2 linked regions of the Homo sapiens genome follow. The protein of the gene in region 1 purifies or fractionates together with the protein of each later gene. This does not show direct contact. Each region holds a gene or a part of one and is shown on either strand. Other genes may lie near its edges. The genes, in order: OR4E2 and SHTN1.

The links.
Region 2: the proteins of OR4E2 (region 1) and SHTN1 purify together in Homo sapiens (affinity purification with mass spectrometry, with the first as the bait; one large-scale study listed by BioGRID). This does not show direct contact.

What each region holds. Positions count from the first base shown.
Region 1 is NC_000014.9:21,663,519-21,666,008, reverse strand, and holds part of OR4E2 (olfactory receptor 4E2), read right to left. Parts: intron 935-2,490; 5' UTR 927-934; coding exon 1-926.
Region 2 is NC_000010.11:116,883,120-116,886,955, reverse strand, and holds part of SHTN1 (shootin-1), read left to right. Parts: intron 1-389; coding exon 390-612; 3' UTR 613-3,836. UniProt on the Homo sapiens protein: Involved in the generation of internal asymmetric signals required for neuronal polarization and neurite outgrowth.

The sequences.
Region 1 (2,490 bases):
GTGAAAAAAACTTGTCTCTGCCTGAGCTGCTTCATGGCACTTTTTACCTCCTCATTCCTCAAGGTGTAAATGAAGGGATTCAGCAAAGGGGTGACCACTGTGTAGAAGACAGACACCACCTTGTCAATGGAGAAGCTGGTGTCTGGCCGAGTATAGATGAAGATACATGGCCCAAAGAAGAGGGCAACCACCATGAAGTGGGCCGAGCAGGTAGACAGGGCTTTCCGGCGCCCTTCAGCTGAGTGTTTTCGAAGAGAAACCAGGATGACCATATAGGAGGTGACCACGGCCAAGAAACAGGAGAGGGAGATGGTTCCACTATTGGTCACAATCAGTATTCCTGTGAGGTATGTATCTGTGCAGGCCAGCTTGATAACAAGAGGCACATCACAGAAGTAGCTGTCAATAATGTTGGGGCCACAGTAAGGTAGACGAATAGTCAAGAAGGTCTGCCCTAGTGAGTGAACAGTACCCCCCAACCAGAGAGCAAAGACAAGCTGTATACAGACTCTCATGTTCATCACATTGGGGTAGTGGAGTGGAGTGCAGATAGCCACGTAACGATCATACGCCATAATGATCAGCAGAAAGATCTCGGCACAGGCAAAGAGATGTAGGAAGAAGAGCTGTGTGATGCAGTTGTCAAAGGAAATGGTCTTTCTTTCTAAAAGCAAACCCTCCAACATCTTAGGCACAGTGACAGATGAGTGGCAGATGTCAATAAAGGACAGATTGCTCAGGAAGAAATACATGGGGGTATGGAGACTTGGAGTAAAGACTGTGGCAATGATGATGAGAATGTTCCCCGAAAGCGTTAGCATATAAATGGCTGAGAATGCCATGAAAAACAGCATTTCCAGCACCCGGTTATCAGTGAGTCCCAAGAAGACAAATTCAGTCACTCTTGTTTGGTTTAGACTGTCCATTCAATGAGCTTAGGGGGGAAAAAATGAAAGCTAATTTAGTTTTATTATTATAGGAATAGAACTAATTGAAATGACTTTGTATTCTTATCTGAATTGCTTATTTATCATCAGAGCATATAGCTTATGAAATCAATTTAACAGTAGTTGTTACAGTATACCCACTACTTACCAGGAGCCATGCCAGGCACTTCTATTTAAACACAACCACCCTATGGCACATGAATCAATTGTTTCTGCCTTGCAGATGAGATCAGTGAGCCTTTACAAGAATAAATAAATGCCCGAAACCTTACACATTAGTTATTTGGCTCTTTTCACTTCAAACTAAAGCACTGATAACATTAAGCTAATATTCCAATACAACTCCCAACTAAATAATTTGACTCTTCTATCAAATTAGATATACATTCAAAGCCTGCAACAGTCTGCTGCACATTTTCATTTTTTCAATGTGAGTGTCCTTTTATTCTCCCTATTAATTCTTCTCTCTGACCAAGCAAGTCACTGTCCTCCAGGCATCCTACCTCCACCTACTTACCTTCCAAAATCTTTGTCTTTACTTTTTCTTTTCCCTCTGCTCAGAAAACATACACTCTATTCAAGTGTACTCTCCTCACCTCATTGTTTACTATTAATATACAAACAACTCCATTAAAAATGGGCAAAGAACATGAACAGACACTTCTCAAAAGAAGACATTTATGTGGCCAACAAACAGGAAAAAAAGCTCAACATCACTGATCATTAGAGAAACGCAAATCAAAACCACAATGAGATACCATTGGCTATTATGAAAAAGCCAAAAAACAACAGAAGAACAGATGTTGGTGAGGTTGTGGAGGAAAAGGGACATTTTTACACTGTTGATGGGACTGTAAATTAGTTCAACCATTGTGGAAGACAGTGTGGTGATTCCTCAAAGATCTAGAACCAGAAATACCATTTGACCCAGCAATCCCATTACTGGGTATATAACCAAAGGAAAATAAATTATTCAATTATAAAGATACATGTACATGTATGCTCATTGCAGCACTGTTTACAATAGCAAAGTCATGGAATCAGCCTAAATGCCCATCAATGATAGAATGAATAAAGAAAATGTGGTACATAACACCATGAAATATTATGCAGCCATAAAAAGGAACAAGATCATGTCCTTTGCAGGGACATGGATAGACTTGGAAGCCATTATCCTCAGCAAACTAATGCAGGAACAGAAAACCAAACATCACATGTTCCCATTTATAAGTGGGAGCTGAATAATGAGAACACGTGGACCCACTCTACACCTGTGGAGGTCTGGGCTTAATACCTGACGATCTGTGCTGTAAACCACCATGCCACACGTTTACCTATGTAACAAAACTGCACATCCTGCACACTTATCCATGAACTTAAAGGTGAAGAAAAAAATACTATTCATCCTTCACTTTGTCTTTGACTATTTCAAAGAACACTACCTTTAAGAAAACTTTCCTGACCCAGTCAAAGCCTATCTATTCCCTCTCAGGCTTCTTTTATGGTCCTTGACCTGTAAAATAAAGTAAAATAAGATGTTCAT
Region 2 (3,836 bases), on another chromosome or scaffold:
AGGGAGTTAACTGGCTCCATCCAGCTAAGTGAGGGCGGGTGGGGGTCTGGGCAGCAGGCTGTGAGAAGTTCACAGTTTGTCCATGAGCTTTACGCTTCCTGAGAAGAGAATGCAATTAAGCAGGTAGGTGCATTTGGCTTTTTAACACTTCTGTAGTTAATCGCTCTTTCTCTGCCTTCTTTCTTCTGGCCTTGTGCTCCTAGTATCAGCTGTGTAATCTGATAGCTTCATTTTTTCTTTTAAATGGCTGGCATCTCAAAGACTACTATATGCATGTTGATTAGACTTAGAACATTTTGGGTTTTATGTTAGTCTGAATCCAGAATATCAGAGACAACTATTTTCTCTCTCTGCTTTTTACTTTTTTTGTCTAACTCTTCATCTCATAGGCCTCCCAGTAGCATTGGATGCAGGAAAAAATACATTGACGGTGAAAAACAAGCCGAACCAGTTGTAGTTTTAGATCCTGTTTCTACACATGAACCCCAAACCAAAGACCAGGTTGCTGAAAAAGATCCAACTCAACACAAGGAGGATGAAGGCGAAATTCAACCAGAAAACAAAGAAGACAGCATTGAAAACGTGAGAGAGACAGACAGCTCCAACTGCTGATCCATAAACCAGAAGCCTGACATGTTTGGAAGTCCTTTTCAATAAGCACATGATTAGTGTTGTTATATTGGCAAGGGCTGTAGACATTCTGCTCTGGTCACTGTATTCAGAATACAGGTTCTTTTCTGGTGTCACTTTTGTAAGTAGCAACTATAAACATAAGTAAGCTGTTTAGCAAAACACACATTCCTAGTAGGTTTTGGTTTTTTGATCTTTATAAAGATGAGGTTTTTTTCCTAGTTACTGTATTAAGTATGACTTCTTTTAGAAGGTTACAAAAAAATTCAGATGTTGATACCTTTTTAGGAAATGTGCATACCACTCATCAAATGGAATGCTGAAAGTTTGAGGTGCTTGTATATAATCGGATAAACAAAACTGATCAACCCAATGTGATTTTAAAAGCCCCCAAAGAAGCTTCTGTTTTGGGTCTGATCCTCTTGATGGAGAAACTGCAGCAGCATGGAAATTGTTGGGTACTGTGGCATACAAGTTATTTTCTACAGTAGACTGAGATAAACTGAAAACTCAGGAGCTGGCATCAAACTCGTAGTCCCATAGTCAGTGTTAATTACACACATTGTTAACTATTGGATGAAAAATACATGCTATTGATTGTGTCCAAAGCCTCCCGAGGACCTCCGTGGGGATGCTCTGGTAGCCTGAATACAGAACTGAGGTGAAAGTCCAAACCTTGAATTTTACAGTAGTAAGTTGGTAAACCATGTGCTCTGTGCTATGAGTTAATTATGTTTTCCCAAATACTAATGTGGCACAAGTACCATATTTTATCAGAGTTCTTATGTACAGTATGGTGAAGATAAGTGACAAGCACACATTTTTCTTGCTTCACTGCTGTTCTATATTACACAGGTTTGTTGTTGTTTTTTTTAAAAAAGAAATTAAGCAGTAGTTAGTCTCTAAAAATACAATGTTTCAGGCTACCACAGTGAATAAATAGAAATGTAATCAGGGATTAAAAAAAAAACTTATGCAGCTTTTCAAAGTTGATTGTTTCAAAATTGGTGTTTATTTAAAATAAGTGGTAATGTACTTGAATGCACTTTTTATGACAATGATTCAGTAATGGTAATTTTACTATTAAAGAAAGTGAAAGGTTTAGTTTTGTTAGCATGGCTCAGCATGTAGCTGTCAGGTGTTTTTCACCTAAGGGCAAAAGAAAATGATAGTAATAATTGCAGTAGTTGTATTGTATTGTATTTTTGCACGTGTGGTAAGCATAGGCTTGAAGAGGTGGGTAGGCAGGTACATGTACTTCCTAAATTTGGAGATAATTATCTTTCTGTAAGTTCGTTATGCTTGACTGTTTCCATGTTCTCCCAATAATGATTTTATAGTTACTTATCACTTTACTCATGGAGAATTAAAACGTAATGTTTTTCAACTGTATCTTTCTTTAACTGGATAATACTGCTATATGATATGCTTACTACAGACTGCATTAATTCACGAAACGAATTCTGTTATGCTGTAATTTGAACTCTCCTCACCACAACTTATTAAAAAGGCACCAATAGTTTCCCATTAAGGGTCAGTTGTGGTTATTATTAACGTTTCTGGTTTAGTTCCCCAAGCTTGACATTCTTTAATAGAAAATTGTATATGATTTGACAACTTTAGTAATTTTTAATAGTCCCTAAGATGGTTTATTGAGTTTTCTTTCATGTTTCTTTGTGCTGTCTTCCTTCTTGCATCTGTGATCTGTCTGCCAGCATGCAACTCACACACATTTAGGAATATAAAAATATGTACACTGTCTTTCCATATTTCATCACACCATCACAGAATAATATGGTTATCAAAATACCCTCCTTTCTAGAGTAAGAAGTTGCCCTTTGGGTGAAATGTGTTAGCTGGACTAGGGAACAATTAGTAACAGGTATTTTGAAAGTATTCCTGCCTTTTTTAAGCTGCTTACTTTCTCTCACTGTGATTACAAAGCATTTTAAATTAATTTGACATGAAGGTATTTGATGGAAGATATTCACTCACCTTTTTCTGCCTACAGTTTTTCCCTTTTCACTTTGGTTTTGAGGGGGTTTTGCCCCTGGCTGGGGTGACACTGTCAACCAAAGCAAGGGATCCCAAATAGGAAGACATAGGAGAACCGTGCTTATATCTGCAAGGTATGTTCATAGCTATTGCACACACAAAACTTACATACGTCCTGCTTACACAATTTTAAGTTGGAAAAGACTGCATCTTTATGTTTTTGATTTCTCTAAAAGGTTATTTATGCTTCCTTCTGTTTGGGAAAGATAAATTAAGTCTTGTGCGCTATAGAGGATTTTTTTTCTTTAAGAAAAACGAATGTTGATGCATTTTATAGCCCGAGTGAGGAACAGAGATAGAGGTACTTTGTGCCATTGCTATTAAAGAAAAAGAAAATGTCTCTTTTTTTTTCTGGAAGAATAAGATTTTAATTAAAGCACTTGCACCCTTTTGTATGTGAGCTGGTCTCAAACAAAGTCCTCACCCACAGCAGTTTCAGCAGCTGAACAGTCCCATGGAAGTTCTGACTGGCAGGCATCAACAGGGCTATTAGCACCCAGCATAGTTTGCCCTGAGTACGGAGGATGGATGCTTTGGCTCTAACTACTCACCAATAATTGCTCCTTCCTTACCTTCTTTGTTAATGGTAAACTGCTGGAAATGGAGTAGTACAGGTAACAATTATTTTTAATTGTCTTTCCAGACCAGTTTTTGGTTGTGTGTTCAGTAAATGATAGTCTGTATCACAGCCTTCAAGTCTGGATTATTTTTCTAAATGCATACTCTACCTGTTCAGTTACACTCGTTGTGGAACAACATTAGCTTATATACCAGTAAGTTGTCGAGAATGGATAACCATCTGTCATTATCACTGACCTTCAAAGACTCATCAAGCAGTCCCTGCATAAGGATTGGAGTGGTTTGAAGTTTCTCTTCCAAGCACTAACATGTCCCTATCCCACAGTCATTTTAATTTGGTATGTGACTGTTTCTTTCATTTCTTTCACAGATAATATTATATATACAGTTATATAAATATATTTCATATTAAATGTTATATAACACAAGAGAGAGAAAGTATAAGTAGAAAGAGTGCCTAGCACCCTAAGAAATTTAAATTAAAATGCTAATTATCCATTGGTGAGTGCAGTCTCGAGGATAGGTGAGTAAACTGCTCTGTGTTGAAGTCACACTGCTGACCTGGTTATTGT